Homo sapiens: one gene and its partners. The protein of the gene in region 6 purifies or fractionates together with the protein of the main gene of each other region. This does not show direct contact. Each region holds a gene or a part of one and is shown on either strand. Other genes may lie near its edges.

The links.
Region 1: the proteins of HAVCR1 (region 6) and PI4K2A purify together in Homo sapiens (affinity purification with mass spectrometry, with the first as the bait; one large-scale study listed by BioGRID). This does not show direct contact.
Region 2: the proteins of HAVCR1 (region 6) and ABCG2 purify together in Homo sapiens (affinity purification with mass spectrometry, with the first as the bait; one large-scale study listed by BioGRID). This does not show direct contact.
Region 3: the proteins of HAVCR1 (region 6) and SLC12A3 purify together in Homo sapiens (affinity purification with mass spectrometry, with the first as the bait; one large-scale study listed by BioGRID). This does not show direct contact.
Region 4: the proteins of HAVCR1 (region 6) and STAM purify together in Homo sapiens (affinity purification with western blotting; one study listed by BioGRID). This does not show direct contact.
Region 5: the proteins of HAVCR1 (region 6) and MARCHF3 purify together in Homo sapiens (affinity purification with western blotting; one study listed by BioGRID). This does not show direct contact.
Region 7: the proteins of HAVCR1 (region 6) and ACVR1B purify together in Homo sapiens (affinity purification with mass spectrometry, with the first as the bait; one large-scale study listed by BioGRID). This does not show direct contact.

Annotation. Positions count from the first base shown.
Region 1 is NC_000010.11:97,646,212-97,650,678, forward strand, and holds part of PI4K2A (phosphatidylinositol 4-kinase type 2-alpha), read left to right. Parts: intron 1-4,467. UniProt on the Homo sapiens protein: Membrane-bound phosphatidylinositol-4 kinase (PI4-kinase) that catalyzes the phosphorylation of phosphatidylinositol (PI) to phosphatidylinositol 4-phosphate (PI4P), a lipid that plays important roles in endocytosis, Golgi function, protein sorting and membrane trafficking and is required for prolonged survival of neurons.
Region 2 is NC_000004.12:88,089,120-88,092,957, forward strand, and holds the end of ABCG2 (broad substrate specificity ATP-binding cassette transporter ABCG2), read right to left. Parts: intron 3,263-3,838; coding exon 3,115-3,262; 3' UTR 1,150-3,114; downstream 1-1,149.
Region 3 is NC_000016.10:56,863,929-56,868,006, reverse strand, and holds the start of SLC12A3 (solute carrier family 12 member 3), read right to left. Parts: upstream 2,801-4,078; 5' UTR 2,772-2,800; coding exon 2,490-2,771; intron 938-2,489; coding exon 791-937; intron 1-790. UniProt on the Homo sapiens protein: Electroneutral sodium and chloride ion cotransporter, which acts as a key mediator of sodium and chloride reabsorption in kidney distal convoluted tubules.
Region 4 is NC_000010.11:17,709,829-17,714,295, reverse strand, and holds part of STAM (signal transducing adapter molecule 1), read right to left. Parts: intron 1,028-4,467; coding exon of another isoform or gene 916-1,027; exon of another isoform or gene 1-915. UniProt on the Homo sapiens protein: Involved in intracellular signal transduction mediated by cytokines and growth factors. Upon IL-2 and GM-CSL stimulation, it plays a role in signaling leading to DNA synthesis and MYC induction. May also play a role in T-cell development.
Region 5 is NC_000005.10:126,876,675-126,881,141, reverse strand, and holds part of MARCHF3 (E3 ubiquitin-protein ligase MARCHF3), read left to right. Parts: intron 1-2,747; coding exon 2,748-2,957; intron 2,958-4,467. UniProt on the Homo sapiens protein: E3 ubiquitin-protein ligase which may be involved in endosomal trafficking. E3 ubiquitin ligases accept ubiquitin from an E2 ubiquitin-conjugating enzyme in the form of a thioester and then directly transfer the ubiquitin to targeted substrates.
Region 6 is NC_000005.10:157,034,696-157,039,162, forward strand, and holds part of HAVCR1 (hepatitis A virus cellular receptor 1 isoform a precursor), read right to left. Parts: intron 2,667-4,467; coding exon 2,552-2,666; intron 1-2,551. UniProt on the Homo sapiens protein: Phosphatidylserine receptor that plays an important functional role in regulatory B-cells homeostasis including generation, expansion and suppressor functions.
Region 7 is NC_000012.12:51,992,811-51,997,277, forward strand, and holds the end of ACVR1B (activin receptor type-1B isoform a precursor), read left to right. Parts: intron 1-1,174; coding exon 1,175-1,300; 3' UTR 1,301-4,268; downstream 4,269-4,467. UniProt on the Homo sapiens protein: Transmembrane serine/threonine kinase activin type-1 receptor forming an activin receptor complex with activin receptor type-2 (ACVR2A or ACVR2B).

The DNA of each region.
Region 1 (4,467 bases), on a different chromosome or scaffold from region 6:
CTTAATAATTTTTTTTTTTTTTTTTGAGATGGAGCCTCACTCTGTCGCTCAGGCTAGATCAGGCATGATCTCGACTCACTGCAACCTCTGCCTCCTGGGTTCAAGCAATTCTCCTGCTTCAGCCTCCCAAGTAGCTGGGATTACAGGTGCGCCCACCACCATGCCCGGCTAATTTTCGTATTTTTAGTAGAGACAGGATTTCAGCATGTTGGCCAGGGTGGTCTCAAACTCCTGATCTCAGGTGATCCACCCGCTTTGGCCTCCCAAAGTACTGGGATTACAGGCATGAGCCACCACACCCAGCCTAATTTTTAAGAGTTTAAACTTTTTGAGACCAAAACGTTTGAGAACTATCCACTTAATGTTTATGAAACTTTAAAAGAAGACTTTTATAAAAGGTAATTTCTGTATATTTCACTGTGCGATGTGAATGATATGCTTGAACTGTCTTACATTTTAGGTTCTTGGAGAAAGGACCTCTTTTAGCATAGCATGACACCCTCCTCCTTGTCATTGCTGATTAGATATAGGAACCCCGCTGGGTTCCAGGTTCCAGTAATTTTTTGTTGTTGTTTGTTTTGAGAGGGGGGTCTAGCTCTGTTGCCCAGGCTGGAGTGCAGTGGTGTGATCTTGGCTCACTGCAACTTCCACCTCCTGGGTTCAAGCGATTCTCCCGCCTCAGCCTCCTGAGTAGCTGGTACTACAGGTGCATGCCACCATGCCCGGCTAATTTTTTCTATTTTTTTTTTTTGTAGAGATGGGGTTTCACCATGTTGGCCAGGCTGGTCTTGAACTCCTGACCTCAAATGATCCACCTGCCTTGGCCTCCCAAGTGCTGGGATTATAAGTGTGAGCCACTGCGCTGGGCTCAGGTTCCAGTAATTGGTTGTGGGTTCTGACACCAGCTGGTGCATGGCCTCTTGCTTTCTTGTGTGATTTGGTTTTTATTCCCAACTTCATGGACTGCTACTGCTTAAGCTATCTGTACCTCACCCCTCCTTTGTTAAAAGGGGAGATTAGTAAATGGGTGTTAAGAAAAGTTGTTTTTATAATATTGGCATCAAACTGAAGCTCTCTCCTAGATATAATAAAGGAATTGAAAATCTATTAAGAGAAAAAAAACACAAAATATTAAAGAAGAGAGTGGATGGTGAGGAAAAATTAGGCAGTAGTCATTTTCTTTTCCAGCTAAATACTGGTGGGTGTCTTTCCAATTTGAGTGGTTTTAGAGTTTGTTCTCCATGAATGAGAAGAGTATTCTTGATTATTCAGTAGCATAGTTGATTTTATGAAGTGAACATTGGAAATTAGGCCAGAGGGTATTTTACCTCTCTGTCTAGGAAAGCCACCAAATGCCTGCAGAATGCTTGCACATCGTTCTCCACAGGCTAGGTCCTGAGCAAATGCTAACATAATTGAATTGAACTGAGGCTTACACTTAGTCCTGAAAGGCACTTGTCTCCCCTTCTGTCTGAATGCCCTTTTGTTCCTCCATTCTTCATACTCTAACATTCCCTCATTGATCTAGTCCAGGCAGTATTCTTTAATAAAACCCCTGTACTATTGCATAACCATAATTACTCATGCTTTTGGAGTCATTGAAATGCTTCTTATTCTCCTTATGGTAGAAGGAAATCAAGATGTTTGAGAGGTCAGTCTTTAAATGACACTTGACTGCAATCTTGGCCTTCAAGTTCTGCTTGCTTTTTTTTTGTTGTTGTTGTTTAATTTTTCTTTTTTAGAGATGGGGTCTTGCTCTGTCACCCAGGCTACAGTGCAGTGGCATGCTTCTAGCTCACTGCAGCCTTGATCTCCTAGGCACAAGGGATTCTCCCCGCCGAGTAGCTGGGACTACAGGTGCATACCACCACACTTAGCTAATTTTTTTTTTTTTTTTTTTTGAGATGCTATTTCGCTCATTGCCCAGGCTGGAGTGCAATGGCATGATCTCGGCTCACTGCGACCTCCACCTCCCAGGTTCAAGCGATTCTCCTGCCTCGCCTCCCGAGTAGCTGGGACTACAGGCATGTGCCACCATGCCTGGCTAATTTTGTATTTTTAGTAGAGATGGGGTTTCTCCATGTTGGTCAGGCTGGTCTCGAACTCCTGACCTCAGGTGATCCACCCTCCTTGGCCTCCCAAAGTGCTGGGATTACAGGCATGATTCCCGGCTAATTTTTAAAAATTAGTGACAGAGTCTTGTGGTATTGCCCAAACTGGTCTCAAACTCCAGGCCTCAGGCAATCCTGCCTCATCCTCTGAAAGTGCTGGGCTTATAGGCATGAGCCACCATGCCCAACTTTTTCTGTCTTTAAGTAGAAGTATTTACCAGTTGACCTCAGCCCTGGTATTTTTCAGCCCCCAGTAGTAGTAGGAGTGTCTTGGCCTCCTTTTCATTGAGGACCAGCTTACTGAACTCCATAATGTGCCTCAGTTGAACTGACTGTTGCGTTCTGGGACATGCTTCAAGTTGCCTTTTGGTTTCCCTGTCCAGGGTCCGGAGGGTTACAGTGGACTCGTCAGTCATTCTCTGAGTTGTGAGCCTGTTGCTACTGCTGCTTTGTTATTCAGAGGCTGGGGTTCCAGGGGAGCAGAGACAGAGAAGACTGCTGAGGACTCTAGCTAGCTGCTTTGCATAAGAAAGTAATTCTGAAGACTTATGATGTGAATATATGCATTTTGCATTTGCCAGTAAATAAGTTAGTTTGTCTTTAAGAATAAATTGATTCTTTTTGGAGGGAGAAGGAGGAGTTCTGTATTTTTCTTGTCCTCTCAAATCCTTGGAAGGCATTTTTAAAGGAGCTGGCTTCAAGATCGACCAGTTATTGTTAGCGACATGGACCTAGCTAGTTCCTAATATGAGTACTGAGTTGGTAAAAGCAGATGGGTGTATGTTGTCTGCTGTGACCTGCCATTCAGGAAGTGACACCCACAGAAAAATATCTTATGACCCAGACTAGCTTGAGTAGGCTGTGGGGTGAGGGGACAAGGAGAGTCATATGATATGAGGATGAATCACTTGGATAGCATATTTGCTTTTTTCCTTTGAATTACCAGTTTGGGGACTGGAGGGAATTAGATGAATGTAAAACAACCTCAGAGGGCTGACTGGCCTGTTGAAGAAAACACTCAGGAGGGAGGGCCATAGTTTCTAGGCATCCCATATTTCCAAAGACCTTAGAAGATTAAGTTACTGTCTGCTATAGAAGATGGATTTAATCTGTGTGGCATCTCATGTCCTGGTTTCTTGCCTATCAGAATTACTTAAGAGAGCTTCATTCTAACCAAGTAGCAGAGTCTTTTTCCTGCTGTGATTTTTCTCTTTGGATAATAAGGCTGCGAGAGGAAATCTCTTCATCATTGATGAAGGAATTTCCTTAACCTCATTCCATAATAGATTTTTTTTTTTTTTTTTTTTTTTTTTTTTTTGAGGCAGAGGCTTGGTCTTGTCACCCAGGCTGGAGTGCAGTGGCGTGATCTCAGCTCACTGCAACCTCCGCCTCCTGAGTTCAAGTGATTCTCCTGCCTCAGCCTCCCGGGTAGCTGGGATTACAGGTGCATGCCACCATGCCCAGCTAATTTTTGTATTTTTAGTAGAGACAGGGTTTCACCATGTTGGCCAGGCTGGTCTCGAACTCTTGACCTCAGGTTATCTGCCCACCTTGGCCTCCCAAAGTGCTGGGATTACAAGCGTAAGCCACCATGCCCGGCCCATAATACCTTCTTTACTTCCTTCCAGTTGGTAAAGTTTTTAGTCTTTCTGTAATTGGTGCAGAACAACAGTGTGCATAATGTAACTTCGGAAATTAGAGTTTATGATGTTAAATTTCTGGCATACCACATACAGAAAGATCCCGTAGGATAAATAGGGCAGGGGTGCATGCAAAAAAAGAGAACATATAACCTGTGATAAGTTAATTCCTCATTTTTTTGGGGGAAAGATTACTTTAGAGCCCTCGATATGTGCATTAGGATATTGTATCTTTCTGGAGGGCAGGAAGCAGTACCATATTGGCATTAGATGCTGCCAGTGACTCACGATCTACCACTGAATTGGCTTCTGTACCTTTTTTTTTTTTTTTTGTGAGACAGGGTCTCGTTTGGTCGCCCAGGGTGAGGAATGCAGTGTGGGCAATCTAGGCTCACTGCAACCTCCGCCCCATGGGTTCAAGTGATTCTCATGCCTCAGCCTCTGAAGTAACTGGAATTACAGGTGTGCACCACCGCGCCCAGCTACTTTTTGTATTTTTAGTAGAGACAGGGTTTCGCCATGTTGGCCAGGCTGGTCTCAAACTCCTGGCCTCAAATTATCCACCCGCCTTGGCCTCCCAAAGTGCTGGGATTACAGGCATGAACCCTTGTACCTGGCCTGCTTCTGTGTCTTGCTCCTAGAAATGTAGCAATCCATTTACCTTGTTTGTTTGAAGCACAAAGTTAGAGGTAGGTACTTATATGAGGGAAAAGAGA
Region 2 (3,838 bases), on a different chromosome or scaffold from region 6:
TCAGAATGCACCATAAGAAACTTGTTTGGATTATATTTTTGTGCATGCACAAAAAAAGGGCTGCAATATGAAGTATTTTTTTTTTTACTATGAATACCAGACAAAAGTTTTTAAAACACTGTAATGACCTGCAGGTGTTGTCAAGCCAATGACCTGTTATAATCCTACTGCTACATCCAAAAGAAAAGTTCTTTAGACACAGTACAGTGAGGTATCATAAAACAGTATATATTGCCACTAAAGAATGCAAAGCAATATAGATAGTATACATTTATAGTATAAACAGTATAAATAGCAACTTATATTCATTTAACTGAGATTTCTTTTATGTTAAACCACATTAATTCGTCTCCATTATAGATTAGTTCTGACATCCAGGAAAATAAAATCAAAAGAATATATATATATAAAAAACATAAAATGAGCACATAAAATTTACCATCTTAACCATTTTAAAATTAAGGAACTTTTTTAAAGTGTGGTTTATTTTCTTATAAAGTAGAAATTTACTTAAGGATATACATACCCATATATAAGATATAAATTATATATACATTATATATATAATTATATAGATAGAAATTATATATAGGATATAATATATAGAGAGGATATAAAAATACAGAGAATATATATAATATATAGGGTACATATAATATATATGGATATCTATATCCTTAAGTACATTTCTACTTTATAAGAAAATAAACCATACTTTAAAAAAAGTTCCTGGCCAGGCGCGCTGGCTCAGGCCTGTAATCCCAGCACTTTGGGAGGCCGAAGCGGGTGGATCACGAGGTCAGGAGATGGAGACCATCCTGACTAACACAGTGAAACCCTGTCTCTACTAAAAATACAAAAAAAAAAAAATTAGCCGGGCGTGGTAGCGGGAGCCTGTAGTCCCAGCCATTACAGGCTGAGGCAGGAGAATGGCATGAACCCGGGAGGCGGAGCTTGCAGTGAGCCGAGATCGCGCCACTGCACCACAGCCTGGGCGACAAAGCGAGACTCTATCTCAAAAAAAAAAAAAAAAAAAAAGTCCTTAATTTTAAAATGGTTAAGATGGTAAATTTTATGTTATCTGGTTCCTACCACAACAAAAGCATATAAAGGTAATTTTAATATAAAAAAAGAATACATAAAATAGGATATAATTAAATTCTCATTTATTTAAAAAGTTAATAATTGTGGCTGTTTTGTTTCTTTTGAAGTATATTTTGTGTAAAAAGTATAGATAGATATTTCTCTCTGTGTAATAAGGGAAGGGTATATATAGAGAACTGTAAGGGACAGGTATGTGAAAAGCAGGAATTATACCAAGAACAGGAAAAACTGATTAATCTTCCTGATCACATAACCAAGAAAAAAGATAATGTGTTCCAAGATGACGCATTAATCAAATGTCATCCAAAAAGAAAAAAGTTCAAAGATAAAAATATAATGCCATGTTCCCAAATTGATGTTGTGACAGAATGTCAGGGCACCCACTGACAAACTAAATGAATTCCAAGATGACCAGTGTCAGGGCGTCTATACACCATGATGCCCCAGCTCAGTTAACTCCTGTAAGTGCTGAAAAGTATTTACTTTTAAAAAAGAGGGCTAGATGAAATGTGGTCTCCTGAATTGAATCCTAGAACAATGAAAGAATATTAGTGGAAAAGTGGTGAAATCTGAATATTGTGTGCAGTTTAATTAACAGTGATTGTACCAATGTTAACTTGTTAGCTTTGACAAATGCATCTTGCTATATAAAATGTTAACATTAAGGGAAGCTGAGCAAAGAGTAGACAGGAACTTTCCTCACTATCTTTGCAACTTTTCTGTCAATCTAAAATTATTTCCAAATTAAAAGTTTATTAAAAAGTGGGGAGATAATTAAGTATCAACCTATGCACACAGAAACACAACACTTGGCTGTAGCAATGTTCTCATAACAGCAACAGAGGGAAATACATCAAGTGTCATTTCAAAAATAACCCAGGGGTAAGGAAGGAAGTAGTGACTGGGAGAATGGCTGAGTAGGCTTTTGTGTGCTACAATCTTCTATTTCTTGACCTGAATTGATGGTTGCACATGTGTGTTCATTTTAATTCACTGAACTATATTTTTTGGTACATTACCCTTCAACTAAAAAAATAAAATTAAAACATTTCCCTATTACTGATGAAGGTTAGAATGAAGAGAACATAAGGTATATAAGTAGGAAAGAAAACCTATGTAGGGACAGATGTTAATAGTTATTAAATCCTAAGTAAAATTTTCAGAACTTGGAAATTACCAAATCCAGGAGTGGTCAGATTCCTTTATGAAGGTAGATCTGGAGCTACTTAGGCCAGATTTTTGTATTTTAGCAAAGTTCCTCAGATGATTCTGACGCACACCTGGATTATAAACCACTAAACCACTGAACTACCCCAAGAAGGTTACGTGACCTCCCAGAGCTAGAATGTTCCAGAAATGGTGCAAGAATTCTATTACTGGACTCCTGGCCCTCTACTCTACCCACAGTTCCAAACCCTCAGCCAAGATTCCTGAGATATTATACCACTAGACAGGAATATCAGTAAGTTCTATTAACTTTAATGTGCTTATCAAAAAGATTTTTTTTCTATCACGGTGGCTTTTTTTACCCTATAAGACAGAATCTTTTTTCCAACATATTTTCAATTTTACATTTCCAGTATAGCATTAATACATTTGTCATTTATTAAATAATGGCAAACCATAGCATCATAAAGTATTAAGACTGAAGGGCTACTAACCTACCTATTCATTTTAAAGATGAGGAAACAAATGCCAGAGACAGTAATAACTTGTCAGGAGTTTCCAGAATTCAATTCTCCTTTTTTAGATTAATAAATTAGACCAGATTTCTTCCCCATGGTTACTGTCTGAGGAGATTAACTAATATGCGATACATGATGTCTTGGGTTCTTTCATGTTTAATTCAGTTTGTTGTGATTTCTAAAAATGTATCTCTTTAAAACAATTGCTGCTGTGCAACAGTGTGATGGCAAGGGAACAGAAAACAACAAAAAAACTTGATTGAATACTTCAATCAAAGTGCTTCTTTTTTATGTGAGGATAAATCATACTGAATTAAGGGGAAATTTAAGAATATTTTTTAAGAAATAACAATTTCAGGTAGGCAATTGTGAGGAAAATAACAATCATACAAGCCAAGGCCACGTGATTCTTCCACAAGCCCCAGGGTGAGAGATCGATGCCCTGCTTTACCAAATATTCTTCGCCAGTACATCTGAAATTAAACAGAAAAAGAATATAACTTCATTCCTAGCATCCGTCAAATGTTACTCAGTATATCCACTGTTCCTTAAAGGAGCCTAAAATTGAACCAAGCCTTTAATAATTACCCCTTCAGATATCATAGCTAACAGTCATTGTGTGTTTACAATTTTGCTAGACACTAACAAACAACATGGACCTAACTTAGTTAATTCCTAAAACAATCCAATGTGATAGACATTGTACACACTTAAAAGATGAGGGGACTAACGTTTAAGGAACTTGACCAGGTTTACAGAGTCATACTTTGAATCACCAAGTTTTTAGCCTACTCAAATTTATTGGTTTCCAAATCTGTAATGCTGCTCTCTCCAAAGGGCAGAAATATTTATCAAGTAATAGTTCCCTTATCCCTGATAAAGAAAATATCTGCTTAAACAGATGACACCTGTGACCCTTACTAAGATGATCAAAGCTCTTACAGTACTCTTTACGCTTACAAATAGCCATAAAAAACAACACAGGTTAAGAATTCCAAAACCAGGAAAAGAGGTGTGCATGGGTTTCCTGCCAAAGTCATGTTCTGTCA
Region 3 (4,078 bases), on a different chromosome or scaffold from region 6:
TGTGTCTGCCAGCCCCGACCATGGCCCCAGTGGTCAGCAGTTGATCCAGAGCCTGGCATTTACAGGGAGCTCAGCAAATGCCAGGTGAGCCAGCGCCCCATGTAAGAGCAGATATCAGAGCTCAGGTGGCTGTGACTTCAGCTTCCAAATTTAAAGCAAAGCCAGAGGCCGAGATGGAGGCTGAAGCTTCCAGGTGGGAGGGGCTGGTGTGGTCGCTGGCCCCACTGAGTTGCAGGGCCGTTCCCGGCTCTGGCAACACAGCCCAGGAGGGAGATCCCAGCTCTGAATAAGAGCATCTGGGGGTCGGGGAGGGCTCGTGGTTCAGATGGAGAAACGGAGGCACAGCCAGTTGGCAGCGTTAAGATCAGAACCCCAGCCTCCTGCCTCCCGGAGCAGGGCTAAAGCCTTCTACATCCCATAAGATCCCCTCTGTAAAGTCCCATAATGTCTCCAAAGCCAAGTGTCCTTGATTGTCTACTGTCTGGAAACTTAATCCTGCTCCTCACTATAGCAAACCTTTTCCTTCCCTTCATGGAGGAGAAAAACACATTTACGGATTTGTGTGTTTAGTGCAGCCCCCTGGTGGCTTTTTAGGGAAACACAGTTTCTTCTAATTACTCCCCGGCAGGCTTTAATCTATTGTCTATTGATCTATTAACTCATTGAATTCATTGTACAGATGGGGAAACTGAAGCCCCACCAGGGCCTGAGAGTCAGAGCTGAGCCTGGATGGAGCTCTGCCACCCCACCCCCATTTCTGGACATCACGCACCACCCACACCCCACTCACCATCACCCCCTTGACCCAGCCGAAGCGCACTGGCTCCTCGGGGTTCTTCTCGCTGCTGGTGCCTGCCTCGCCCTCCACCAGCCCATCAGTCATCTCGTGGCTGGGCCGGCTGTCAAAGGCCAGGGCATGCAGGTGTCTGCCTTCCTGCTGGCAGCCCAGAGACCACAAGTCAGGCAGGTAGGGGTGCTAGGGACGGCGTCTCTGCATCCAGCCCACTGACCTGCACCACTGCGCCCCATACCGAGCACCCCCCGACCCCTCAGCCCACTGGGTGTTGAGCTGCTTGAGGGGCTTTTAAAATGCTCCCTAGGCCAGGAGCAGTGGCTCACGCCTGTAGTAAAAGCACTTTGGGAGGCCAAGGTGGGTGGATTGCTTGAGCTTAGGAGTTCAAGACCAGCCTGGGCAACAAGGTAAAACCCTGTCTCTACTAAGAAATACAAAAATTAGCTGGGCATGGTGGTGTGCACCTGTGGTCCCAGCTACTCAGGAGGCTGACATAGGAGGATCTCTTGAAGCCAGGAGGTGGAGGTTGCAGTGATCCAAGATCAGATGCCATGGGAGACTGGGAGTCCTGGGCGCTCCTGCTCATAACACCTCCTCCCCCTAGGAGAGCAGTGGCCTTAGAAGTGATTAGGCAGTTGCCTAGCCTTGTAATGGGCGACAGGATTATTATCACCCTGGAGAGGTGAAAGCTTGTCCAAGGCCACATAGTTGGTCCCTGGAGGGCTGGGTCTTGAAACCAGGCCTCTACCTCTGGGGCACTGGGAGGTCTCCTAGTTTGTGCCCCAAGTGACTGACGCCCTCCTCTGGGGCTTTCTTCCTGGCACTTCATCTCAGTATGGAGCCAAGGGCCATGTCTTGGTTTGCTCTGGGGTGGAGAAAAGGCCTGCGAATTTAGTAAGTCTTAGCCTCAGAATCAAGAACAATTCTGGGCTGGGCGTGGTGGCTCATGCCTGTAATTCCAGCACGTTGGGAGGCCAAGGTGGGTGGATCCTTTGAGGTCAGGAGTTCAAGACCAGCCTGGCCAATATGGCAAAACCCCATCCCTACTAAAAATACAAAAATTAGCTGGGTGTGGTGGTGCGCTCCTGTAATCCCAGCTACTCGGGAGGCTGAGGCAGGAGAATCACTTGAACCCAGGAGGCAGAGGTTGCAGTGAGCCGAGATCACACCACTGCACTCCAGCCTGGGCGACAGAGCCAGACTCCGTCTCAAAAAAAAAAAAGAAAAGAAAAGAAAAGAAAAGAAAAAAGAACAATTCAGCCCAATTGTCATATGGGAAAAGTGAGGCCAGACAGGGGTCATGACAATCCACCTTCCAGCCCTCCACTCTTCACAGTCCAGCCTCCCGGGCAGCAAACCCGGCGAGCCCTCTCTCTGAGGTGAACCTTCCCAGGCCCTTCTTGCCCTGTCTCTTTCAGGGGTGTGCAACCTGCTTGCATGCTTCTACTCACTGGAAGCTCATTACCTCTCTAGGCCTCCCACTCTAGCTTTGGGTTGCTAGTGATTGGCTAATATACATTCCAACATGTGCCCAGATTTCTGCAGCTCCACTATTTCACTGGGGCCTCTCAACCCAGGAAGAAGACGCTCCTCCATCCCCATGGCACAGATGACAGAACTGAGGCTCAGAGAGGTTAGGTAGCTGGGTCGAGGTCACACAGCAGGGAAGTGGCCAGTCTTCTGAGACAGCACTTACCTTGAGGAAGGAGTGCAGGTCAGCCAGTGTGGGCCGGACCTTCCGGGGCTCACCAGGCTGGGTGCTGTTGGCATAGTGCTCATATGTGGGCACCACATCGATCGTGTTGTAGCCAAAGGTGCGCATGCAGAAGGTGCTGCTGTGGGTCAGGTGGCTGGGGTGGCTGCTGTCATAGGCAGCTGGTGGAGAGGGCTCATCACTGCTCAGCAGTGTGCTGATGGTGAAGCGCCCGCTGCACAAAGTGGCGTCCCCAGGCGTCTCTGTTGTGGGCAGTTCTGCCATTGTCGCCTGGGTGTCCAGGGAGGGGCCAGGATCCGCAAGGACACACAGGGTGGTTTTATAGGCTGCGTCTGCACTGGGGAGGAGGCAGGGAGGTTGGCCTAAACCGCCCGTGGCTGGTGAGCAGGGTCCCCGGACAGGGCCGGAGGCAGAACACCATTTGATTGTGGAGATAGGGGACCCGCCTTGGATCTGGAGGGCTGGGCTGGCCCAAAGCCAGCCACTCCCTGAGTCCTGGAGTGGCTCTTCTGAGTCTGGGGGCAGCAGAGATCTTCAGCCAGGACCCAAGAAGGAGTTGTCAGAGAGGACCCTGAGGGGCCCCATAAGGGATCCTAGAGATAGCCTGGTGGCTTTGTAGCAGGACGAGCTGCAGTCAAAACTCCTCAAACACCGACTTAAAGAAGGAAGGGGTTTATTCGGCCGGGGGGCATCGGCAAGACTCCTGTCTCAAGAGCCGAGCTCCCAGAGTGAGCAATTCCTGTCCCTTTTCAGGGCTCACAACTCTAAGGGGGTGCATGTGAGAGGGTCGTGATTGATTGAGCAAGCAGGGGGTACGTGACTGGGGGCTGCATGCACCGATCATTAGATTGGAACAAAACAGGACAGGGATTTTCAAAGTGCATTTCTATAAAATGTCTGTAATCTATAGATTACATAACCGATTAGGTCAGGGCTCGATCTTTAACTACCAGGCCCAGGGTGTGGCGCCGGGCTGTCTGCTTGTGGATTTCATTTCTGCCTTTTAATTTTTACTTTTTCTTTCTTTGGAAGCAGAAACTGGGCATAAGACAATATGAGGGGTGGTGTCCTCCCTTAGCCTGAGGACACACTCTGGGTCCTACTCTATGAGAGTTCAAAAACCTCTCATATTAGTATTTGGATTTAAAAAATTTATTTAATATTGGGAGGCTGAGGTGGATGGATCACCAGCCTGGCCAACATGGTGAAACCCTGTCTCTATTAAAAATACAAAAATTAGCTGGGCATGGTGGTGGGCACCTGTAGTCCCAGCTACTTGGGAGGCTGAGGCAGGAGAATTGCTTGAACCCAGGAGGCAGAGGTTGCAGTGAGTCCAGATCGCACCATCGTACTCCAGCCTGGGCGACAGAGCAAGACTCTGTCTCGAAAAAAAAAAAAAATTATTTAGTAGTTTTGAATAGATGAATTATATAATTTTTTTTTTTTTTTTGAGACAGGTTCTGGCTCTGTCACCCAGGCTGGAGTGCAGTGGCACAATCGCAGCTCACTGAAGCCTCAACCACCAGACTTCAAGAATCCTCCCACCTCAGCCTCCCAAGTAGCTGGGGCCA
Region 4 (4,467 bases), on a different chromosome or scaffold from region 6:
TCTATACCACCATGGAGCGTCTGTTCTAGTGGTAGAAAAGGGTAACAAACACATGTATCGTGTGTCAAGTGGTTCTAACTGGTAAGAACAAAAACAAAGCCCAATACGGAGGACAAAGAGCAGCTGGGGCAAGGGATTCTAGTTTATGGTAGGGTGCCTCTCCAATAAGGCAATACTTAAGCAAAGATGTGGAAAAAGTAAGCGAGTGAGCCAGATAGATTCCCTAGGAAAGTACATTTCAGGTAAACAGAAAGAAGCCTTTGAGGAGAGAAAACACCAAGCATGTTCAAGGAACAGCAGGCCACGAGTGCTGCGGCAGAGGGGGCCGCAGGGGGTGCCGAGGGGAGAGCAGCTAAGATCACCGGCAGGACTGCGGTGGTGGGGAGGGGGCTGGAGAACACACAGCACCTGATGGCCACAATAAGGACTGTAGCTTACACTCTGAGTGAGACAGAAAGACACTGGCTCGTTCTGAGCAGAAGCGTGATAAGATTCCACAGGGTTTAACGGGCTCCCTCTGGACCAGGATAGCTGACTGCAGGTTATTACGATCCACCAGGAGAGAGCCGACCAGCAGAAGAGCCACGGCAGTAATGGTGGAGATGGGAGAAAGGGTCAGAGTCTAGATAGATTTTGAAGATAATGCCTTCAAAATATGATAATGAACAGAAGAGTCCAGAATGCCTGAGGTTTAGAACCTAAAAACTGGTAGAAATAACTGGTAGAGTGGCCATTCACTGATTTTCAGAATACTATGATGGGACCATAGTAGACTCGGGGGTGGGAGGGGTGTGGGGAAGATCAAAGTAATAATCTTGGATCTGTCAAGTTTGATGTCCAAAAAACTGGCAAGCAAAGAGAATGCATAGGCAGTCAGCTATTCAAGCCTGTTGTCCTGCATAGGCAATCAGCTATTCAAGCCTGCTGTCCTGTGGGGAAGTACGGAGGAGAAATACGCATCTGGGAATCCTCGGCAGATCCACGGCATTCAGAATCACCGGGCTTCATGAGGTCCCCTGGGGAGCGGCTGCAAACAGAGAAAAAGGCAGTCCATCTACTGTGCACTGGACCTTGAAGTCCAGAAGATAAAGAGGCAAGAGGCAAATGAGGCTGAGAAGAAGTGGCGGTGAGGCAGAAGGGAAAAGAGAATGGTCACCAGCAAGTGAAGAAAGCATTTCAGAAAAGAGGAGGGAATCACGAACTGTCAAATGGAGGAGGAGGAGAATGGTGAACTGACCGGGAGTCTAGCAGTATGGGCATCACCAGGGTTCTTGACAAGAACGGTCCCAAAGGACTAGTGGAAGGGAAGGCCTCATAACCTCATTTCTTTTATTTCCTTGAAAATACGGAAGCACACGCTCCAACACCACACTGATCAACTCTCTGCAGCTGCACCCCTCACGTACTGAGCTTCCCTACCGCTCCCACCGCTCCGCTGCCAGTACTCCCATCTCAAGTCCCTGCACTTGTGCACTGCTCCCATTAAAAAAAGAAAGAAAAAAATTCTTCAAAGGGTTGTCTTTATCCACTGCCTCTACTTCCTGTCTTCCTGTTTCCAACGGAATACATGCGTTTCCACTGTAAGACACTAGGTTAGCTATGTGAAGAGAAGTACTAAGATGCTGAGAATTCCCCCTACATTTGTATTAAAAATGTAAAACAAGCAATATAAAAAGCAACTGCCAAATTTTCAAAATACTGCCTACTTCTAAACTTTCCTCCAATTGTTATTTATAAATCTATTGTTGGGAAATTCAGTGCTCTTGTACTTGGCACAAATTCATTATTTGATGGTAATTTATTATAAGAGACGGTAATTTAATGCTACATTTCTCCAACTAATGTGGTGACCTAAGGCATTATTTGTCATCACTCCATATGTGTGAGATATAAAGTTGATTAGGAGATGTCAAATTTCATACTATTATTGACAATGGTATGGGCTATAATATTGCCGTAATATAGAGTCTATGCGCTGGGTTCTGGAGTCAGAATGTCTGGTTTAGAATCTTAGCTAAGTGGGACTTCCGTTTTGTCTCCAGGTCTCAGCTTCCCCATCTATAAAATGGGGGTAATAGTTTACCGACTTCACAGGTTATTATGAGGAATAAGTTACTTTGTGTAAAGCATACAGCACAGTGCTTGGAACATACTAAATACCCCTTAAATGTTAGCATTATTGTAATCATTCTCAATTTACAGTTCCACCGTCCACCCAGTTGCCTGGGGCAAAACCATGCAATTCACCAATACTTCTTTCTCTTATCTCTGCACTGAGCTGTCTCCCAACCATGTCACCCAATGTGTAATTATTTGCTAATCTCCTAAATAACTCTTTCCAATTAATAGCACTGTATCTTGCCAACAAATACTCATAATTTCTTGCCTAATATCCATGGTCTCCCAGCTTCTAATCTTGCCCCTATGAATCCATCTACGCTACTGCCATTTAAAGCCCTTTCTGAACTTTTTCATTATCCCTAAGATGGTATCTAGAACAAGCATTCTTCGACCTTGGCAGTGTCTTCAAGTATGTCTCTCGCTGCTCCCCTACACGCTTTCAACCCTTGGTAAGTGTGCTGCTGGAATGCCGATACATACCACGCCTTTCACACCTCCCATCTTTGCTCACTCCATGGGTACCATGCCATTCCAGGCTACCACATCTCTGACGTGACAGAACATCTTCCTCACTTTTTTTCTACTGGCTAAGAATAACCCTCTTGGAAAACTTCCTCAAACCCTGAGGCTCCTAAGGTACAAGGCATATATCTTCTTTATTTATAAATCATGTTGTATAAAATTATATTTTTTTATGTGTTTGCCCCTACTACTCAGTAAGCACCTTGAAGCTAAAGAAGACTCTCAGGTGTCTAACACAGTGCCTGGCACATGCTGACTGTAGTAAACTAAAATCAGAGACAAATAAATACATAAGCTTCAGTGGTCTCAAAATACTAACAGTAATTGTCACTTATTATCACCTTATAATACTACCATCGCTACAGGTAGCTTTAGAAAACCGTCATCAGTGACACCTTCCCCAACTAACAATAAGACTGTCCTAGGATGACAGAAGTCTGAAAAACAGTGAGCTTTAACACCAAAATTTTATGTAACAAGAGATAGCCTCTCAGATATATATAAACTGAGGAGTGCTAAAAAACCTGCCTACCAAAAACAACAACAATCCTCACTGACCTTGATTTGCCGCTAGAAAGCTCGAGTCAAATACGCAGGACACCTCTAGTAAGGAAATTTCTAACCCTGGCCCTCGCTCCTTCCAATTTCCTCATCCTACATTTGCTCTACCAGCAATTCCTCATTTCCCCGTTGAAACACACAAACACACATCTGTTTTTATATATTGATAAACAGATATTACATATTGTACCTTTATATATAGATATTTAAATGGCCTCTAAGCCTTTGTGAAGCCTTTGCAAGGAATTTTTAAAAAATACACCTAACTGGTCTAATATAGCACTTGAAATTGTCATTAACACTAAAACATGTATTCATAAAATATTTACTGAGTTCCTAGCCAGTGTAAAACTGTGTGCTACATAGGATGGCTATAGAGGTGAAAGACAGTGCCAGCTCTCAAGATACTGTCTTCAGTGGGGATACAAACAAGTAAAAAGGCAACTACCAGCCAGGAAACGGAAGTACACACACAGTCCTCTGACAGCACACAGGAGGAACAGTGCTGAGAGGTGGAAAAGCAAGGAAGATGTCCCAGTAAAAATGCAGCTAAGCTAACAACTAAAGAATATGCAGGAATGAGCCAGGACGAGAGGGCTAAATATTTCAAGAAAATGTTCTTCAAAAGACACCTGTTGAAATAAACATGTGTTCCTTGAGAGGTGACATTAATAGCTACACTCTATGGGTAGGGTTGGGCCTATGCCAGGGATTTCACATCCCGAATGCAGAAGCAGAGTCACACACAGAGAACAGCAGCAGGGTACCACAGCGCTACAGAACTTCACTGTTAAAGCACCTACCAACAGGTTATCTCATTCACAAGGATAATTTCCCAAGGCCCCGACCTTGAAGAATGAGTCTCAAGTAATCTCTAGTAACAAGGAAGGTAGAGCAGCATGTGACATAGTCAAACAGAGGACTAGCAGGGGAAAAGTGGCAGTTCCGGCTAATACTAAAATAGCTGCAGGGTCCTATTAAGTCAGGAACCCTAGTGTCTTCTCAACAATTCCTACCTTCTAGCCCCTTTGTATCTAGTTGTAAAGCAACATGCTACTCTAAGAACAGCTGTTTATTTTCCAGAAGGGTATTCATTTCCACCAGATTTCAACTTAAAAAAAAATCCTGCAAGAGTGCAAGCTACACTTAACACTTTTTTCTAAGATACAGAACCCACTAGGGAATGCCCTGTTTTCTGACATGTGGGCCTTGCCATCATCCCCCTTAAGGTCACTTCGGGATACTAGATCTGACAACCGAATA
Region 5 (4,467 bases), about 30 Mb from region 6:
AGATCAAAGAACAGTTAGAAAACAGGAAACTGGAAACAAGCAATCATAATCTCTAGTTTGTCTTTGCACATTTATTTTGCATCTGGCAGAGATAAACACTGATTCGTAATTACCTCCTCCCCTCCTTCCATATCTAAGTCATTTCATAGGGTAATGTCAAGGGCCACATAAATAAGTAAAGTACTAAGTTAGTTTTAATAAAATGCATCCAGAATTCCCAAGCAAAAGAAAGGAAGGGAAGTCTTAGCTAATGAGGTCAGTGTTTCTGTGGACATCGGTAGCATATGTGTTCAGGGCCTACTGTTCCAAAATGGAAGTACAGAGAAGAGTACACCAGATGTCTATCTGCTTCCAGGGAAAACCTGAACCATGAGGAGAATTGGGTTGGTTTGCTATAATTTGGTCACCATTGTTTAATAATCTGGATGTCTAAATGTCTTGCGATTTTAATTTTTGAACATTCACTAACATCTAAATAAGAGTAGAGATCTCGATCCTCTTCTCAGTTCAGCTTCTGAATCACCTGGCACCATCATTTAACTTTACTGAGCCTCTATAAAATTAAGATACAATAATGCCCTATTTCTACTCTCCACTTGATAGTGATATTCCCAGTACTCAGGCAAGAACATGTTAATTAATAAGAGCTCTTTGAATTTCTTTGAAGCTGCTGAGATGTCTGAGGTGGCATGACAACACATGGCAGGATTAATATCATTTGCACTTATTTTGGTATTTATATTAAATATAATGCAGTATTTAAATTCGCAGACAAGTCAGCTCCCCATTATCTATGTTTTAATATTTATTTGTGTCCACTTTCGAGGTGAAACTGACTGTATTCAGCATTTCAGCCCGTGTTTAAGGTGGCTTGTCCCTGAAAGGTGGAGTGTTGGGGATTCATGCAAACATTTGAGGAAGGGCACCTCCCAGAAAACTTTCTTTGGTGCCTTTTACCTCCTGCTTCTTTTACTCACTCATTGGGGTTTTGCCAGGCCTTACACTGCTCTTTCCTCAACTTCTTTCCCTCTTTGCCGCTTTTCTATTTTGTCGTTCCATGCTTGAGCATGGCCTTCCCCTCCCTCTCCTGTCAGCCCCACCCACTCTTGTCTCACCCATCATGGCCCTTCTCTTCCTCCCAGTGGTTTTGTAGGATTCGCTGCCCTGGCCACTTGGGCTGCAAGTGGCCAGTGCTCCTGTTTGGCAAGCCAGCTGTGTGGCACTGCTGGGCACGCATCAGCAGACAGTCAATGCTAGGTCCCTGTTTGTTGGTAGGAACAAGATGGAAGGCAAAGAGTACCAGTGTCTCTCCTCACCCCAACCCCATCGTCTGTGTTTGACCCCACTCCTTCTCTGGACTCCTTGGCCTCTGTTTACTACATGGAACAGTGAGATGGGAATGTCAAATTATCTGTAGAGTGTTTCAATGCTAATCTGAAGAAGAGCTATCAGGCCTCATTACTCATGTGAATTGACACCAGTATGTAAGCACTGAATTAAATCTATTGTCGAATGGATTTTGGAAAGCATTATAGCAAGCATTAAGCAGGTACCCAAATGGGAGGACAGCCATCCTATTTTCCTAACTGTAGAAATTCTATTTAGTCTTTCAACAAGCATGAGGTTTTCCCCATCCTTTTGGGGATTAGTTCAGTCAAGATGGCAGCATAATCAAGATGTCAGAGGTGGTCCTAAGTGAGGAGGTTCAGGATCCAAAAGCCAAGAGTGGGCATTAATGAGTTCATGGGGTCAGGTGAGTATTATTCCGTGTTTGGTATCCCCAAGACCATCCTCAGGCTCAATTATTCACTAAAAGTACTCACGGGACTCAGAAAAAACTGTTATACTTATGGTTATGGTTTATTACAGCAAAGGGATACAGATTAAAAGCAGAAAAGGGTGAAGGTGCATGGGGTGAAGTCCAGGAGAAACAAGACACAGGCTTCCATGTGTCCTTTTCTAGTGGAGTCAAACAAATATGCTTAATTCTTCCAGCAATGATTTGTGACAACATGGGCGAAGTATTTGCCAATCTGGGAAGCTCACCTGAGCTTTAGTATTCAGGATTTGACTGGGATCAGTCACACAGACATGCAATATCTGCATGACTGACCTCAGCTACTCAAACTCCAGGCTCCCAGGGCAAAAATAGGTGTTCACCATAAATCACATTGTTGGCATAAAGTGTCTCATCATACTAGTATTGTGGGCCCAAGGCCTCTGGCATGCAAAATACTCTTATCAGGTAAAATGTTACTAGGACTCAGAGCTCATCTCTCAGAAGCTGGTCAAGAGCCAGTCCTAAAAACAGGCCTGTCTTGGGAATGTGCGGGGCTTGAGCAACTCAACCGTTTCCAGCACATATTCCCAGGGTGAAGACACTGGAAGGCTTTGGACACATGACTGAACTTCTCCTACCTCAGCTGTCACCTTCCAAGCGTAACATTCTCTCTTCCTTCCACATGGGATCATTGTGATTCTGAATAGTAACGACTATTTTCACAAAAAGTAGGTCATCTACAGCAAGGACACTATAAATTATTATTGTTATTTGTATCATATCATTATTATTCAGGGGGTGGAGCATGGGAATGAGCCCTGAACACTTCCTTGTTATCTCATAACAAGTCAGAAATGCCTTTTCCCAAGGTTCTGAAGGCAAAGATAACTTCAGAACAGCGTGTCTCCACTCCACACTGGCATTTAACCCTCTCCCTTGCTCTTCTCTGTCTCCCTTTACCTGGCAGTGGCTGAGAAACCCTGGCCCCCAGCATGAGAAGCGGACTCTGTTTGGCGACATGGTGTGCTTCTTGTTTATAACTCCCCTGGCCACCATCTCGGGCTGGCTGTGCCTGCGGGGCGCCGTGGACCACCTGCACTTTAGTAGTCGGCTGGAAGCCGTCGGACTGATTGCACTCACTGTCGCACTCTTCACTATTTACCTCTTTTGGACACTAGTAAGTATGGGCCGTGGCTGGGGTTCAGGCCATTTGGAGCTGGCAGCCTCACAGCTGGCACAAGCCTTTCCTCTTGTCTGTAACACATCTCACCTGCCCGGTAGAAAACAGACCTTCGATTGCTGGCGGGAGCATGAGATTTGGTTTATGACTATGTGTGTGTGTGTGTGTTTGTCTGTGTGTGTGTCTGTGCTGCTAAGGCGGATCACATAAAGAAAAAGTTTGGCTTCTGGGTGTCCATCAGTCAAAGACACAGACACACCATGGACGTTTCTCTCCTCTAGTAGTCTAGGACTCCATCTGTTATGAGTCTTGGCATTTTCTTTCCCTTGTTTATGTTTCTCATTTTTGCCGGGATTGTAGTATATTATGAATGATGCATTTGGCTGCTGTTGCTGTCACTGCCTGCACAGATCGTGAATCCTCCCTGCTGGTTATTTCCTTCTTACGTCCTGACACAGCCTAAAGTCTTTGTTGGACGTGGAGCCGCACTTTGCCTGGTGATTATTCTGTGTGTTGGGATATTGACTCTGCTGCCCATAAAAGCACTAATTTATCTAGCTGAGAAGCTGCCACCAAAGAAAGGCCATTTCCCAATAAGTGTTCTCGCTGTGTGTGAGGAAGAATTTTTACATATCACTTTTTTCATTCTTTTAACTTTTAACTTCATGCAGTAAGTTGATCGCTTGAGTACCAGTTGACAGCACCCACAAAATGCAACATTTGATCTCTCTCCTTATGCTTTCCTCTGGGAGCTGCAGGGAAGGACATCACTGTCTTCTAGAATATTTTCAGAAGCTGGGCCCCCTGCTTCCTGGCATTACTCTCCTGTGCCTGCTCGTTTCTAATCTGAGCACGTTCCACTGTTATTCAATATGTATTTCCTGTCTAAAGTGTACCATTCCCATATCCCATAGCACAGTGTCAGCATGTGGAAGCTGCTTCTAGCACATACTTCCTCCCTTTCTGTGTCTCCCAGACCCTGTTCCTCCAGCTGCCACTCCCACAACCCTGTTCATTTCCCTCTTCTTCATCATATGGCTCTTCCAGCTCTGTGCCTCCCCTCCAGTGAGAGTGTTCAAACAGTAAGGAGATACATTTCAGTTTCAGTAAAGAGGGAGTGTTCTAATGCTAAGAACTTATCTGAGTCTTATGGTTAATTTAGACATTCTGTTCCCAGGCTAGTGAAGCCCCAAGCAAAACTATTATTGCTTCCTTTAGAAGTCTACGCTTCCAGCTGGGCGCGGTGGCTCATGCCTGTAATCCCAGCACTTTGGGAGGCTGAGGCGGGCGGATCACTTGAGGTCAGAAGTTCGAGACCAGCCTGGCCAACATGGCGAAACCCTGTCTCTACTAAAAATACAAAAATTAGCTGGGCATCGTGGTGCATGTCTGTAATACTAGCTATTTGGGAGGCCAAGGCAGGAGAATTGCTTGAACCTAGAAGGCAGAGTTGCACTGAGCCAAGATCGTGCCACTGTACTCCAGCCTTGGTGACAGAGTGAGACTC
Region 6 (4,467 bases):
CAGTGCATTTTGTCCCTGGGTACTCGAGACTGGAGAATGGCGATGACTTTTACCAAGCATACTGCCTGCAAACACATTTTTAACAAAGCACCTCCTGCACAGCCCTAATCCATTAAACCTTGAGTCAACACAGCACATGTTTCTGCGAGCACAGGGTTGGGGTTAGGGTTACAGATTAACAGCATCTCAAGGCAGAAGAATTTTTCTTAGTACAGAACAAACTGGAGTTCCTTATGTCTTCTTCTTTCTACATAGACACAGTAACAGTCTGATCTCTCTTTCTTTTCCCCCACAGAGCTGAGATCACACCACTGCATTCCAGTCTGAGTGACAGAGCAAGAGACTCTGTCTCCAAAAAAAAAGAAAGAAAAGGGTATTTAAGCTCCAGTCATCTGGCCCTTTCTTCCATCTCATATTTTGTGTGGCTTCTGTACACATAATAAATATGTATTCATTTTCTCCTGTTAATCTCCTAATAATCTATTTTTTTTTTGGCGTACTCAAGTATCAAAATTTCAGAGGGAAAGTTTGAACTTCCCTGCAAGGTATTTTACCCAATTTCTAAATAACTTTGACTAAGCAAGCTCCAAAATAATTATATAAAAACTTCCTCAAATTTGCCAAACATACTCTTAATTTTCTGATTCTCCTCTGCCTAGACCCATGAACTAAATCAGTCATGGCTTCAAATACCACATCTTGCAAAATAGCTAACTAGGGTTCTTTTATGGGAGGCAGGTTATACTGAGACAAACACACACACACACAGTTAGCAGAAGGGAGACATGAAGCCTGGGGTGGTTGCTTTTTGAAGACTTTTGTTTTACTTTTTTAGTCTGTGTCTTGCTATCAGTTTCCCCTCCCAGTGTCTCATGTGCCTCTTCTGCTAAATGAGTGTTGCAAAATTTTAACAATATCACCCCCACAGGGAAAAAAATTAGATCTTGTAGGGTGGAGAAAATAAATCTTATATATCACAATGGTGTGTTGACTTCCAGATCGCAACACTACCCAACAAACTCCTATTTCTTGATACAGTTGGCCCTCGATGTCCACAGGTTTGGCATCCTCAGTTTCAACCACTCGCAAATTGAAAATTAAAAAAAAAATAAAAATAATACACAACAATAATAATACAGATAAAAACAATACAATATAACAACTATTTACATGGCATTTACGTTGTATATTAGGTGTTCTAAGTAATCTAGGGAAGATTTAAAGTATACTGGAGGAAGTGAGTAGGCTATGTGCAAATACTACACCATTTTATAAGGGACTTGAGCATCTGCAGATTTTGGAATCAAGGGGCTCTGGAACCAATCCCCCAAGGGTACTGAGGAACACCTGTATTTAGTTTTTCTTGGCCTGGCATTGTGGCTCATGCCTGTAATCCTAGAACTTTGGGAGGCCGAGGCAGGTGGATCACCTGAGGTTAGGAGTTTGAGACCAGCCTAGCCAACATGGCAAAACCCCGTCTCTACTAAAAATACAAAAATTCGGCCGGGCGTGGTGGCTCATGCCTGTAATCCCAGCACTTTGGGAGGCCAAGGCAGGCGGATCACAAGGTCAGGAGATCGAGACCATCCTGACTAACACGGTGAAACCCCATCTCTACTAAAAAATACAAAAAATTAGCCGGGCGTGGTGGCGGGCGCCTGTAGTCCCAGCTACTCAGGAGGCTGAGGCAGGAGAATGGCTTGAACTCAGGAGGTGGAGGTTGCAGTGAGCCACGATCGTGCCATTGCACTCCAGCCTGTGAGACAAGAGAGAAACTCTGTCTCAAAAAAATTCTTATAGAATTAAATTTTTTCCATAGGGGAATAATAATTGAAAAATAACAAGTTTAAAAAATAGTGGTTTTAAGTGAAAACTCCACTAGAATGTAACTTCCATGAGATTTATAGAGATTTATGGCAAAAGGATCTTTCTAACTACAATTACAGTTTAAGATTGCTGTGCACTTGTCATGTGCCAGGAACCATTCTCAGTGCTTTTTCTTTTTGTTCTTTTCCTTTTATTTTAGAGACAATGTCTCACTATGTTGCCCAGGCTGGTTTTGAACTCCTGGGCTCAAGCAATCCTCCTGCCTCAGCCTCCCAAAGTGCTGGGATTACAGACATGAGCCACTGCTCCTGGCTGGTGCTTTTTTTAATGGTTTTTTTGTTTGTTTGTTTTGTTTTGCTTTTTTGTTTTGTTTTTGTTTTTTTTTAAGAAATGGGGTCCCACCATGTTGTTCAGGCTAGTCTTGAACTCCTGGGCTCAAGCAATCCTCCTGCCTCACTCAGCCTCCCAAGTAGCTAGGATTACAGGCATAAGACCCCACACCCAGCTCCCATTCTTAGTGCTTTGTAGGTACCAATGCATTTAAACTTCATTTCCCTTCCCCCTTGAGGTAGATGGTATTACCATGTGACTTTTACAAATGAGGATTTGGGGAGACAAAGGGAAGTCGTGTGAAATCAAAATCATGTGACTTATGAAACTAGTGAACCCAGGCAATTTTGCTGTACATCCCTTGTCCCTTAGGAACAATCTCGAAATGACTTACTTTTGGCAATGATGACACCCAAAAGAGCAAGAAGCACCAAGACAGAAATACAGACTCCAGCATAGATTCCTTTAGTGGTATTGGCCGTCAGTAGACTATGTTCTAGGAACAGTTGCTGAGGAAACAACAACAGATCAAAAAAGCATCTTGTTAGAAAGTTATGAAGAGAAAACATTTCCCAGAATCACTTACCCAGCCACATTTACCTGTATTGGTGCTTGGGGACTTCTGGAACATAAGGGTAAGACCAAATGATCTCAGTTTATAACCATACGGTGAAAATCTAGGACAACTTGAAACGCAAAACATATTTTACAATGATGGAGGTGTTTTCTAGCTTGCTTGAGGTTGTATTTACATAGGTGTACACATTTGTCAAAACTAAAACTGTATGCTTAAAATGGGTTTGTATGTAAATTTTTTAATTTACTGTTTTAAAAGTCAATAGGCTATTTCCACAAATACATCCTCTTGTGATATTAAAAAAGAAAAAATGTCAGGCATGGTAGCTCACATCTCTAATCCCAGCACTTTGGGAGCCCAGGCATCCTGAGGTCAGGTGTTCGAGACCAGCCTGGGCAACATGGTGAAACCCCATCTCTACTAAAAATACAAAAATCAGCTGGGTGTGGTGCTGCACGCCTGTAATCCCAGCTACTTGGGAGGCGGAGGCAAAAAATTGCTTGAACCCGGGAGGTTGCAGTGAGCCAAGATTTCGCCATTGCACTCCAGCCTGGGCAACAGAGTGAGACTCCATCTCGAAAAAAAGAAAAAAAGAAAAAAAAATTGTTTATATAAATTGACTTGATGTGATGTTATCTTAATGTGCTCAGTTATTGAATTTTGTCCTTGGTTACAGTCCTTACTTGTCTTTTTACCTGTAATAGAAGATTCTGTCTCTATCTAAATAAATAGATTTGAGAGTAGCTGCACACAGACATGGCCATGATTAACAATTCAACGCTATGCAATCATGAAGAAATGTAAAATTGTTTAAGTCTTCTGGTGCCTATCACAAGAGATCATCACCTCCTGGAATAGGCCTGAAATGTGCCTGGCTTCCTGCTGGTCCCCATTTCATGGCTTAGTTCTAATCCTAAAGAGAGCCCACCGGGAAGGTATTTTAATAGAAGGAAGGGGGAGAATCTGAGTGAAGGACAAATCTTCTCATTTGTAAAATCTTAATCCCTGGAGTCAGAATCCCAGGTCTTCTACTTAGTCACTATGTGACCATGGACAAGCTATTTAGCCTCTCTGAATCTATTTCTATGTCTAGCAATAGACATAGACAGTAGATTCAATAGGGTTCTTTGCAAGGGTACTTTCAGGTCCTTCCTGATAAACACTATGAATATAGTGGAGTAACAGCATTTGAGCCATGCTTGCTTAGAAGCGGCATAGCCAGTGTCTGGGAGTGCAAAACTATGTTGTTATTACTTTACCTACAGGGTGGGAGGGAAGTGTAATGTGGGTAGATGGAGAATGGGGTTTCAGGAGGCAGGCTTTGCTTTCATTTTTTAATTACAACACACAAATACTGCATGCTCATTTTAGAATGTGCAGCTAAGCATAAAAAAGGAAAACTAAAAAAACCACAACCAGGTCACGGACAGTGGCTCACACCCATAATCCTAGCACTTTGGGAGGCTAAGGCAGGAGGATAGCCTGAGCCCAGGAGTTTGAGACCAGTTTGGTGAGACCCTGTCTCCAGAAAAAAATAAAACTGGCCAGGCGTGGTGATGCATGCCTGTGGTCCCAGCTACTTGGGAGGCTTGGGGTGGGAGGATCACTTGAGCCTGGGAGGATGAGTCTGCAGTGAGCTGTGATCGTGCCACTGCACTCCAGCCTGAGCAATGGAGTGAGACTCTGTCTCGAATAAATAAATAAACCATAACTTTAACATCCAGAAATGAGCA
Region 7 (4,467 bases), on a different chromosome or scaffold from region 6:
GGGGTGTGGGGGAAACAACATTTGGTGGAAAGAGTTGACATGAGGACATGTTTGTGACATACGTACTAATAAACATGGAATTCTAGGGTCTTAAGAGTGTTCAGGGGAACAGGCTTCGCCTAGCTAAGTGCTCATGGGCCTCCTTTTCACTTGCGGTTCTGCATTTCCTTTTACTTATTTTTTTCCCAACTCTATCGAGGTGTGATTGACAAATGAAATTGTAACAAAGGTGTACAAAGTGCTGAATTGATACATGTATGTATTGTGACATGATTACCACACAAGTTAGTGAACACATCTGTCACCTCACCTTGTTGCTTGTGTGTGTAGTGAGAGCAGTTGAGACCTACTGTTAGCACATTTCAGGTGTACAGTATTGTTGACTCTAGTCACCTTGCCGTCCATTAGAGCCCCAGAACTTACCTAGTCAAGTAGAGAGGTTGGCTCTGCCTTTAACGAGTCTAACCACTAGAGGGCATTTCTGCATTTCAGAACAGAATTGCATATTAGCTGATGCTTTCGTGTTGCATCATAGAGCAGCACTTCTCACCGCACTCCTTGGAACCCTCAGGGCAGGGTTTGCTTCAGAGGGCAGGTGAGACCAAAAGAGCTGGCCGTTAGCTGCAGCGTTTGCCTTTCACTTGTGTAAGCTGTCCCTTAAAAAGGAAGAGCCGCCTGGCGCGGTGGCTCATGCCTGTAATCCCAGCACTTTGGGAGGCCGAGGTGGGCAGATCACAAGGTCGAGAGAGCGAGACCATCCTGGCCAACCAATATGGTAAAACCCCATCTCTACTAAAAATACAAAAATCAGCTGGGCGTAGTGGTGTGTGCCTGTAGTCCCAGCTACTGGGGAGGCTGAGACAGGAGAATCACTTGAACCCGGGAGGCGGAGGTTGCGGTGAGCCAAGATTGCGCCACTGCACTCCAGCCTGGGTGACAGAGTGAGACTCCTTCTAAAAAAAAAAAAAAAAAAAAAAAAAAAAAAAAAAAAAAAGGAAGAGCCAGGGAACAAAGGGAGCCTTGCAGAGCATTTCCCTAAGGTCGGCCGCCGGGTGGATGTGGATCTGCCAGACTGCACTGAGCGGGAGGTGGCAGGGAAATGAGTGAGAGCCTAGGGACCAGAAAGGCTTCTCCAGGGCATGACCGAGCTGATGGCTCCTGGGTCTCTGCACAGGCACTGCGGGTGATGGGGAAGATGATGCGAGAGTGTTGGTATGCCAACGGCGCAGCCCGCCTGACGGCCCTGCGCATCAAGAAGACCCTCTCCCAGCTCAGCGTGCAGGAAGACGTGAAGATCTAACTGCTCCCTCTCTCCACACGGAGCTCCTGGCAGCGAGAACTACGCACAGCTGCCGCGTTGAGCGTACGATGGAGGCCTACCTCTCGTTTCTGCCCAGCCCTCTGTGGCCAGGAGCCCTGGCCCGCAAGAGGGACAGAGCCCGGGAGAGACTCGCTCACTCCCATGTTGGGTTTGAGACAGACACCTTTTCTATTTACCTCCTAATGGCATGGAGACTCTGAGAGCGAATTGTGTGGAGAACTCAGTGCCACACCTCGAACTGGTTGTAGTGGGAAGTCCCGCGAAACCCGGTGCATCTGGCACGTGGCCAGGAGCCATGACAGGGGCGCTTGGGAGGGGCCGGAGGAACCGAGGTGTTGCCAGTGCTAAGCTGCCCTGAGGGTTTCCTTCGGGGACCAGCCCACAGCACACCAAGGTGGCCCGGAAGAACCAGAAGTGCAGCCCCTCTCACAGGCAGCTCTGAGCCGCGCTTTCCCCTCCTCCCTGGGATGGACGCTGCCGGGAGACTGCCAGTGGAGACGGAATCTGCCGCTTTGTCTGTCCAGCCGTGTGTGCATGTGCCGAGGTGCGTCCCCCGTTGTGCCTGGTTCGTGCCATGCCCTTACACGTGCGTGTGAGTGTGTGTGTGTGTCTGTAGGTGCGCACTTACCTGCTTGAGCTTTCTGTGCATGTGCAGGTCGGGGGTGTGGTCGTCATGCTGTCCGTGCTTGCTGGTGCCTCTTTTCAGTAGTGAGCAGCATCTAGTTTCCCTGGTGCCCTTCCCTGGAGGTCTCTCCCTCCCCCAGAGCCCCTCATGCCACAGTGGTACTCTGTGTCTGGCAGGCTACTCTGCCCACCCCAGCATCAGCACAGCTCTCCTCCTCCATCTCAGACTGTGGAACCAAAGCTGGCCCAGTTGTCCATGACAAAAGAGGCTTTTGGGCCAAAATGTGAGGGTGGTGGGTGGGATGGGCAGGGAAGGAATCCTGGTGGAAGTCTTGGGTGTTAGTGTCAGCCATGGGAAATGAGCCAGCCCAAGGGCATCATCCTCAGCAGCATCGAGGAAGGGCCGAGGAATGTGAAGCCAGATCTCGGGACTCAGATTGGAATGTTACATCTGTCTTTCATCTCCCAGATCCTGGAAACAGCAGTGTATATTTTTGGTGGTGGTGGGTTTGGGGTGGGGAAGGGAAGGGCGGGCAAGGAGTGGGGAGGGAGTCTGGGGTGGGAGGGAGGCATCTGCATGGGTCTTCTTTTACTGGACTGTCTGATCAGGGTGGAGGGAAGGTGAGAGGTTTGCATCCACTTCAGGAGCCCTACTGAAGGGAACAGCCTGAGCCGAACATGTTATTTAACCTGAGTATAGTATTTAACGAAGCCTAGAAGCACGGCTGTGGGTGGTGATTTGGTCAGCATATCTTAGGTATATAATAACTTTGAAGCCATAACTTTTAACTGGAGTGGTTTGATTTCTTTTTTTAATTTTATTGGGAGGGTTTGGATTTTAACTTTTTTTAATGTTGTTAAATATTAAGTTTTTGTAAAAGGAAAACCATCTCTGTGATTACCTCTCAATCTATTTGTTTTTAAAGAAATCCCTAAAAAAAAAAATTATCCAATTGAACGCACATAGCTCAATCACACTGGAAATGTTTGTCCTTGCACCTGAGCCTGTTCCCACTCAGCAGTGAGAGTTCCTCTTTGCCCTGAGGCTCAGTCTCTCTCGTATTTTGTCCCCACCCCCAATTCCTTGAGTGGTTTTTGCTCTAGGGCCCTTTCTTGCACTGTCCAGCTGGTTGTACCCTCTCCAGGCATTTATTCAACAAATGTGGGTGAAGTGCCTGCTGGGTGCCAGGTGCTGGGAATACATCTGTGGACAAGACATGCTTGGGTCCTACTCCTGGAGCACTGTAAAAAGAGCTGATTCAAGTAAGTAGATGCCTGTTTTGAGACCAGAAGGTTTCATAATTGGTTCTACGACCCTTTTGAGCCTAGAATTATTGTTCTTATATAAGATCACTGAAGAAAGAGGAACCCCCACAACCCCCTCCACAAAGAGACCAGGGGCGGGTGATGAGACCTGGGGTTTAGAACCCCAGGTGAGACCTCAAATCACTGCATTCATTCTGAGCCCCCTTCCTGTCCCCAGGGGAGGTGTATTGTGTATGTAGCCTTAGAGCATCTCTGCCTCCAACCCAGCAGTTCTCTGCCAAAGCTTGTGGAGGAGGGAGAGCCCTGTCCCTGCCCTCAGGCTCCCCAGTGCTCCTGGCCCTTCTATTTATTTGACTGATTATTGCTTCTTTCCTTGCATTAAAGGAGATCTTCCCCTAACCTTTGGGCCAATTTACTGGCCACTAATTTCGTTTAAATACCATTGTGTCATTGGGGGGACCGTCTTTACCCCTGCTGACCTCCCACCTATCCGCCCTGCAGCAGAACCTTGGCGGTTTATAGGTAATGATGGAACTTAGACTCCTCTTCCCAGAGTCACAAGTAGCCTCTGGGATCTGCCAACACACGTCCACTCCCAAGCCACTAGCCCACTCCCCAGTTGGCCCTTCTGCCCTTACCCCACACACAGTCCAACTCTTCCACCTCTGGGGAAGATGGAGCAGGTCTTTGGGAAGCTCCCACACCCACCTCTGCCACTCTTAACACTAAGTGAGAGTTGGGGAGAAACTGAAGCCGTGTTTTTGGCCCCCCGAGGCTAACCCTGATCCATAGTGCTACCTGCACCTCTGGATTCTGGATTCACAGACCAAGTCCAAGCCCGTTCTTACGTCGCCATAAAGGCCCCCGAACGGCATTCTCGGTACTTCTGTTTGTTTTTGTACATTTTATTAGAAAGGACTGTAAAATAGCCACTTAGACACTTTACCTCTTCAGTATGCAAATGTAAATAAATTGTAATATAGGAAATCTTTTGTTTTAATATAAGAATGAGCCTGTCCAATTTCTGCTGTACATTATTAAAAGTTTTATTCACAGAGCTGCTCTGGTGCCATCTGTCCCACATACGTAGTACGGCCACCCAGCTTTTGTCAGGGGAGTTGGGAATGGGGTGGATGTTCTAAGGTCAGGGTCTCGTGCTCACACCAGCTGTAGCAGACCCCAGCAAGAGGAATGCTGTTCCCAACATCCTGGGTCTTCCTGAGACTGTTGCTTTGTGTTCCTAGAGGGCGGGTCTG